Regions from separate parts of the Homo sapiens genome. Here region 1 is linked to region 2. The links come from fine-mapping of genetic effects on gene expression. A gene starts in region 2. The other region holds a variant in brackets. All regions are shown on one strand. Distances are between the middles of the regions. Region 1 has its middle 22 kb from the start of SSMEM1. Region 2 holds the start of TMEM209 (transmembrane protein 209).

Evidence for each region. PIP is the estimated chance that this variant, and not a neighbour inherited with it, causes the effect.
Region 1: its variant is the best candidate, but not a certain one, in a credible set for the expression of TMEM209 in lung (TOPMed, PIP 0.74).

The regions. Positions count from the first base shown.
Region 1 is chr7:130,227,931-130,232,319 of GRCh38, forward strand. No RefSeq gene overlaps it. Among named protein-coding and RNA genes, the nearest start is that of SSMEM1, 22 kb to the left of the region's middle. The variant C/T (reference allele first, on the strand shown) is at 2,121.
Region 2 is chr7:130,202,682-130,207,024 of GRCh38, forward strand. TMEM209 (transmembrane protein 209) reads right to left here and starts at 2,725. Exons shown (of 15, transcript NM_032842.4): 1 at 2,692-2,725; 2 at 1,293-1,429; 3 at 1,107-1,165. The coding sequence starts at 2,694. It also overlaps a transcript of SSMEM1 not described here. RefSeq lists a silencer at 1,208-1,502 and enhancers at 2,164-2,963, 2,640-2,819, 2,880-2,989.

The DNA.
Region 1 (4,389 bases), 25 kb after region 2:
TTATTATTTTCAAATACAAAAAGTGGAAGCAAGCTAACCAACTGTTGCCTGGTACACAGGGGTGGGTTTTGGCTTGGTGAATAGACAAGAGTTATTTGTAATTGACATTTCAAAGAAGCCTAAGAAACAGGCCAGCCTTTGTTTAAATCATAATTACCCTGTTTGTATGTAAAAGAATACTTCTAAAGCTTTTCAAAACAACTGGTTCTTTTAAGCAGATAATTATTCCCCTTCCAATCTTGTTTACACTACTATTCAGAACTTCAGTGAACTTTTTTTTTCATAGATAGTACAAAGGTTAACTTCAGCAAACCCTTCCTCAAATTATCACAAATTCCCAATTAGTGGATTCTAAACAGGGTTTCCTTGTAACAATATGCCGAAGACTTGCATGATGTGTTTTTTATTGCTTTGAATAACATCTGACAAGTTTCCAAGTACCAGGCCACCTGGATATTCTCTATCTGTCAGGAAAAGATAGAGGTCAAAGAGGTGGGTGGGAGGGTGGGGGAAATATAAATCAGGCCCATACATTCCTATACTATTAGAGGAAGACAAAAGGAAGAAAATGCTTTTTTCCCCCCCAAATATCTATTACATACCAACTGAATCTTAAATAATAGGCACTTTTTGGTGTAAAGAAGAGTTGCACTTACCATCTAAATTTAACAAAACCTCAGATGAAAATAGAAAGCTGACCTTTTTTGTATGTAGACTGGCAGTTATTGGAGAGGCCCAGGGAAGTTGGCAAGAGAAAGATGCATTATAAATAAATTATACTTGTCCTTTCTCGTTATTTCTTATTGCAAATTTCCACTCAGTGCACAAAGGGATAATGCATGAAATCCTTTTTTTAAACAAAAATTTTATGATCCTGAGCAATACTGTTTTCCAGTTCTTTCATCTTCTGAGCTCGGCCTTTTTCACAAGCTGTTCCTCAAGCCGCCTTATTGCAGGGGCCTGTTGTCTCTAATTGTCTTTGTTTATTAGGGCCCTCTGTCACCATGAAGTTTCACGTGTTCAAATCTTGATTTAGCAGTGAGAACACCAGGCTGAGAGCTAACTCTGCTACTAATTAGTGTAAATCACAAAAGGAGAAGTGGAGAGATAAAAACCAGGTCCTAGTGGAAGGGTCTACAGCCAGGGTTAGTAAGACTGACTGGCAGGTCAGAGGATTGAGGAAGAGACGAAAGGGCTTGGAGAAATGCCACTTAGGGTCAGCGTCTTTTTGTCTCTTTTCTCTGATTGTACCCCTTCAGATACAGAAAGGGTCTGAAGTAGCCTATGTTGATTCTTTTCCTTTCTTCCATTTTGTTCCATTGTTCCTGCTCTCTTACATGATTTACGGTTAAGTTCTGATTGGTCTAAGCCAAGCCTGGTGGTGCCATTCTCCTGGTCCATGAGTGGCTCAAGGGTGGGCATGTAATCTCATTCTGGGAAGGGAAGTTTGCTGGGGGGAGCATTCAGAGAAAAAAGTTTGTTCAGTCTTTCTTTAAAAAGACATGTGGAGAAGAGAAATAGTCCTTTTTCTTTTGGTGGTTGCTAGCAAGTCTGCACGTGATGACTGGAACTGTGTGACAGCCAGCTCGTGTCCATAGGGGCATTCGCCTGAGTATGACAGTGTGGAAATATGGAAAAGACTAGGTCCTGAGCTGCTGAATTAACAAATTCTGGAAACATCCTACTTTTAGATTTGTTGCTAGGCAAAATAATCCCTATTGTAAGTTGGTTTTTCTGTGACTTGCAGTTGATACAGGGTCTTAGTCATCTTCTTATGTTCTATAATTTCTAGAGCAGCTTCTTTTGCCTGGAAGGTGCTCTATGATGCCTAAATTGTTAAAGAAAAAAGTATGCGTGCTTCTTTGATGGGGGGGCCCATGGCTTTGCGTGTGTGGTGATTATGATCGTATTGAGAGGTGACAGCGTGCTGGCAGTCCTCAGAGCCCTCGCTTTCTCTCGGCACCTCCTCTGCCTGGGCTCCCACTTTGGCGGCATTTGAGGAGCCCTTCAGCCCACCACTGCCCTGTGGGAGCCCCTTTCTGGGCTGGCCACGGCTGGAGCCCACTCCCTCAACTTGCAGGTAGGTGTGGAGGGAGAGGCGCGAGCGGGAACCGGGGCTG[C/T]GTGCGGCGCTTGCAGGCCAGCTGGAGTTCCGGGTGGGCGTGGGCTTGGCGGGCCCTGCACTCGGAGCAGCCGGCCGGCCCTGCCGGCTCTGGGCAATGAGAGACTTAGCACCTGGGCCAGTGGCTGCGGAGGGTGTACTGGGTCCCCCAGCAGTGCCAGCCCACCGGTGCTGCGCTCGATTTCTCACCGAGCCTTAGCTGCCTCCCGGCGGGGCAGGGCTCGGGACCTGCAGCCCGCCATGCCTGAGCCTCCCACCCACTCCATGGTCTCCTGTGCAGCCCGAGCCTCCCCAACGAGCACCACCCCCTGCTCCACGGCGCCCAGTCCCATCGACCACCCAAGGGCTGAGGAGTGCGAGCGCACGGCGCGGGACTAGCAGGCAGCTCCACCTGCAGCCCCTGTGCGGGATCCACTAGGTGAAGCCAGCTGGGCTCCTGAGTCTGGTGGGGACGTGGAGAGTCTTTACGTCTAGCTCAGGGATTGTAAATACACCAATCAGCACCCTGTGTTTAGCTCAAGGTTTGTGAGTGCACCAATCAACACTCTGTATCTAGCTGCTCTGGTGGGGCTTTGGAGAACCTGTGTGTGGAAACTCTGTATCTAACTAATCTGATGGGGACGTGGAGAACCTTTGTATCTAGCTCAGGGATTGTAAACGCACCAATCAGTGCCCTGACAAAACAGGCCACTCGGCTCTACCAATCAGCAGGATGTGGGTGGGGCCAGATAAGACAATAAAAGCAGGCTGCCAGAGCCAGCAGTGGCAACACGCTTGGGTACCCTTCCACACTGTGGAAGTTTTGTTCTTTTGCTCTTTGTGATAAATCTTGCTACTGCTCACTCTTCGGATCCACACTGCTTTTATGAGCTGTAACACTCACCATGAAGATCTGCAGCTTCTGTCCTGAAGCCAGCGAGCCCATGAGCCCACCAGAAGGAACGAACAACTCCAGACGCGCTGCCTTGAGAGCTGTAACACTCATCGGGAAGGTCTGCAGCTTCACTCCTGAGACAGCGAGACCACGAACCCACCAGAAGGAAGAAACTCCTAACACATCCGAACATCAGAAGGAACAGACTCCAGACGTGCCACCTTAAGAGCTGTAACACTCACCACGAGGATCCGCGGCTTCATTCTTGAAGTCAGTGAGACCAAGAACCCACCAATTCCGGACACTGTATTAGTCCGTTCTCGCGCTGCTATTAAAGAAATACCTGAGACTGGGTAATTTATAAAGAAAAGAGGTTTAATTGGCTCACAGTTCTGCTGGCTATACAGGAAGCATGGCTGAGGAGGCCTCAGGAAACTTTCAATCATGGTGGAAGGCGAAGAGGAAGCAGGAACGTCTTACATGCCTGGAGCAGGAGAAAGAGAGTGAAGTGGGAGGTGCTACATACTTTTAAACAACCTGATCTTGTGAGAACTCACTGTCATGAGAACAGCAAGGAGGAAATACACCCCCACGATCCAATTGAAGTAGGATATTTCCCTGACTCCTTTGCAGGACTCATGAAGGGGGTGCCCTGTTTACTCAGCCCACAGCTCCCAACTCCTTGTGGAAGGGAGTGCATGGGTGAACGAGACAGGAACTGGAGAACATGAGCACTGGAGTCAGCTGGCTACTCTGGTGCCAGCAGGAGTGAACTCCACTCAGACCCACTGAATTCTACCCCTTGCTGGAGGGGGTGTGCAGGTGAATGGGTGCAGGAGCTGGGGCAAGTGCTTTGGGGGGCCAGTAGGAGCCAACTTCTTGCTGGTCCCATGGCAGCGTCTATGGGGGTGCTTGCGACCCCTGAAGACCCAGAAGGTGTGTTACAGTGCTCTTTTAGCTCTGCCATCCATGGATGGCTGAAGTGTTATCAACTCAGAGGGCCCTCTGCCTTTTTGCATGAGGCGGCTGCCTTCCGCCAGTGAGAATAAAGGGTCAGTGTGACAGCCTTTTACGTCCTCACTCTTGGCTCCTGAATTCTTGTCCAGCATCCAGGAGAAACGAGGTCACATGAACAAATTGAAGGATGGTAAATGTGGGGAATTTTACTGCTGATGAAAGTGACTCTCAGTGAGAAGGGGAGCTGAATAAGGGATGGGGTGGGCAGGTAATTTTCCCCTGGAGTCTGGCCATCTCTGGCTGGATTCTTCTCTGAAATTACACTGTCAGACTGTCCCTCTGAAGTCAAGCTGCTTCTCTCCAACATCCAACCATAGTCTCTGAGGTACAGCTGCTTCTCAGGGATTTTTATGGGCACAGGATTTGGGGTAGGGCAGGC
Region 2 (4,343 bases):
TTTTTAATAAGGGGGGTGAGGAGGGCATCTATTGGAGAACACAAAAACCCTCTATACTTAGCAAACTAAAATTACCTTCTTATTCCTCATAAAAACTATAATTTAATGAATGTTATGTGTAGGGTGGCTGGGCATGGTGGCTCACACCCATAATTGCAGCACTCTGGGAGGCTGAGGCGAGTGGATCACCTGAGGTCGGGAGTTTGAGACCAGCCTGGCCAACATAGTGAAACCCCATCTCTACTAAAAATATAAAAATTAGCCAGGTGTGGTGACGCACACCTGTAGTCTCAGCTACTTGGGAGGCTGAGGCAGGAGAATTGCTTGAACCTGGGAGGTGGAGGTTGCAGTGAGCTGAGATTGTGCCACTGTACTCCAGCCTGGGTGACAGAGTGAGACTCCTTCTCAAAAAAAAAAAAAATTATGTGTAGGTAATTTACTAGTGAGTTTCAAAATAGCACTAATCCTAGCAACCCTGTACAATAAATATTTTCACCTTCATTTTAAATATAAACCAACATTATTCAGAAGCCAAGTGACTCTTACAAGAGTAGAGAGTTAGTTAGTGAAGCCATGATTCTAACTGAGGTCTGCTGATTGCAAATCCCTTGCTCTCCCAACTTGGCACACTATCTCCCTGTGAAAGACTTTAATGTGTATAGACTATGAAATTTACTTTAACATCCATAAAGACTCTTTATACCCAATGACTATGGAAGAGCAGACAAGAAGAGAGGAAAGAATGTGAAAACTGAGGAAGGCATCAATGGAGCAGAAATCTGGGCTGGTCTTGAAAAGTAAAAAGGTAGAGACACAGAAAGCGCATTTCAGGAGAGTAATAAAAACAAATCTCACTAACCTCTAAACTTATTTTTCTTCACAGAACTCATAATTACCTGAAGTGTTATTAATCTGATTGTCTAACAGAATGTTCCTTTCATAATAGCAGGGATTTACCTTGCTCCCTTTCTGCTGTATTCCCAGTTTTTACAACCCAGCAGGCAGTCAAATACTTGTTGAATAAGGAAATGTATACTAAGCTGAATTAAACCTGAAGGCAGTTTTTTATTGGTAAATGTAAGTTACAGTGAAAATTACTTACTTACCAATATACCAGAGGGGCCAGTATGTCACATTGTAGTATGAACTAATCAATTTTCCAGTCCTGAAAAAAAATTAGAAAGGCTTTCCAGTGAACCTAAAAACACCAAAAATCAAAAACAAACACAAAAACCTGTGGAACCAGCCACTGGCTTCTTAAAGTTTCACTTTTTTTGGACTGATTCACTTACATTTCAGTATATATCATTCCAGCCATAGATACATTTAGGAGTCCCCAGGCTAAGACCACTTTCCTAGCCTCTGTTTCTTTTCTCATCTTGATGGTTCTGTCAATAAGGGAAGCACTAGGGTGTGCCTCCCCCTGCATCTATGAAAAAACAAAAAGCACAGGAATTAACCAGAAGAAACTATTGCTCCATTTAAAAACCAAATTTTGCATCCCTTATAAAGGTAACTGAAACCGCATATACCTTCTCTCATCTTTAAAATGTTTTATCAAAACTTCTTCCATTTTAATATCAGTATATGAAAAGGGAACCCAAAATTATATGTAACTTAATTGGCATCACAGTGTAATCAACAGAGAAGTGGCTGGTTATTTATCTATTTATTTGTTTTGAGACGGAGTCTTGCTGTCTCCCAGGCTAGAATGCAGTGGCGCGATCTCGACTCACTGCAACCTCCGCCTCCCGGGTTCAAGCGATTCTCCTGCCTCAGACTCCCGAGTAGCTGGGATTACAGACGCCCGCCACCGCGTCCGACTGATTTTTGTATTTTTAGTAGAGACGGGATTTCAACATTTTGGCCAGGCTGGTCTCGAACTCCTGACCTTGTGATCCACCCGCCTCGGCCTCCCAAAGTGTTGGGATTACAGGCGTGAGCCACCGCGCCCAGCCGTGGCTGGTTATTTAAGAACAATTTAATACTTCCAATACATAAAAATGTCTTATTTTGTAATTTAAGGGTTATGTCTAGAAATACTTTGTATTTTGTCTTTGGGGTATGTTACACGGACTAGGCAAAAGGCTAACTTCAGAAACTCAAAATGTCAAGTTTTGGGAGACTATATTCCATATCTGCTGTAAGTCATAAAGACTGTTGTACATCCTCATGCAGACGCCATTACTATCTCAACAACTCTGCACTTGGACAGCTGTACTCCAGGGCTCTCCCTTTTGTGTGTGGATAAAGGACAAGGATCCAAGTTTTAGAAGGGCACGTACTTATGATGGGGTGGTGAGCGGAGTAAGAGGGAGAGAGGGGAAAACGTGCATTGTTTTGGTCCACATTTGGGATTTATAATTCCTCCTTTCTTCAGCTAGGCTCAACTCTTACAGACCGTGCAAAACTTGTTCCAGCGACAAGCAGTCGTATCCCACAGAGGACAGAGCAATAGCTTTCGCGCCACTCAGCCCCCGCGTCCCAATTTCCCAGTCCAGAGCTTCCCTCCCCGGCTCCTGGGCACGAACTTCAGCAACCCTATTGCTTCTTTCTTCCCTTCCCCTAGAGAGGCGGAACGCCTAGCCACATCCCCCTTGGCTGAACCCAGGACAGATCAGCAGGCGCGGAACTCCCACAACCCGCGTAGATTCCAAGACAGGAAGCACAAACACGACCCCGAAAACGCACCATGTCCTCTGGCCGGAAAACGCAGGCTCGCGCCACTCTCTCTGGGCATGCGCAAAGCCAAGCTCAAGCGGGAGGCCACCGGCAAGCGGCTCTAAAGTTACCGGAAGAACTAGGTAGTCTCTTCTCGCGAGAAAGGGAGGGGTCGCAGGCCCAGGCGCTCGGAGCGTTACCAGGGAAACAGGTCTCGGTTTTGCGGCTCCCACTCAGCTGCGGGAGAAAGCTAAGCAGCAAAATTCAGACCAGGCTCTGAACCCGCAGTAAAAAGTAATAATTGTAACAAGCTGAATTTTGTATCTATTAATATAATTTTAGCTTCCCTAGGGCATTTATGGACTCACATGTGTAAACTGATTAAGTAGGGCGGCTCACCGTAGGATAGAGTGGCGTGATAAAGTGGCCAGACACCATCAGTGACAAAGCATTTCTTTCCCCTGTGTTAAAGTATCTATGTCAAGAGTCCTGACCCCATGTAATTTTTTTTTTGGTAGAGACAGGGTTTCGCCATGTTGGCCAGTCTGGTCTCGATTTCCTAACCTCAAGGGATCCGCCCGCCTCAGCCTCCCAAACGCCTGCTGGCCTCCCACCGCCTTTTGGGATTACAGGCGTGGCCCACCGCGCCCGGCCTAAATTCTTAATCTGTTTAATAGGGTGCAGCAATAACAAGCACACCCAAAATTTGTTTTATTGAAGTTGCTAGTGGTTTTGAGGTTAAAAATAATAACACATTTTCGTATGTATTTTTTGGAAGAGCTGCTCATCCTGAGGAAAAGGTTGAGCTTTGTTTTATTTAGCACAAATACCTACAAGTGTGCCGCTGAGCCAGGCGCACGGATATAGAAAATAAGACCTTCCTGGTTATTACCCAGAGGAGCTCAACCCCAGCGGAGGCCCACAGATGCATTTCGGTGGCAGGTGAGGTGGATGCAGTGCTCCCCAAGGAGGCGCATCCAGCCCAGCCCCAGCTCTCGCGAGCTTCCTGGAGGAGATGACGCGTTAGAGTCCACAGCCAGAAACCCAGGGCCTGGGGACTTGTTCTGAAGTGTGCCTCCTAATAAAAACATTAAGCCATGCCACAGTAAGCTAGTGGATTACATCATGTATGTCCAATGGCCAAAGTTTTTCCTAAAATGATCCTAAGATTAATACCACGTGGTATTGTATATTAATGAAAATCGGCAGGTATGCTGTGCTCTTGAAGAGCTGTTAAGTTTTATCATTTTTAGATTGCTTTAGCAGCAATGTTGTTTTGCTCTAGTTTTAGATTTAGAGATGAACTAACTGGAAAATTGTTCAAAGTGAAAGGGCTCAAGGTGCAATCAAAATTAGAATACCGGCCGGGCGCGGTGGCTCACGCCTGTAATCCCAACACTTTGGGAGGCCGAGGCGGGCGGATCACGAGGTCAGGAGATGGAGACCAGCCTGGCCAAGACGCTGAAACCCTGTCTCTACTAAAAAGACAAAAAATTAGTAGGGCGTGGTGGCATGCGCCTGTAATCCCAATTACTCTGGAGGCTGAGGCAGGAGAATCACTTGAGCCTGGGAAGCCGAGGTTGCGGTGAGCCAAGATGGTGCCACTGCATTCCAGTCTGGGCGACAGAGTGAGACCCTGCTAAAAAAAAAAAAAAAAAAAATTAGAATACCGGTTTCCCACC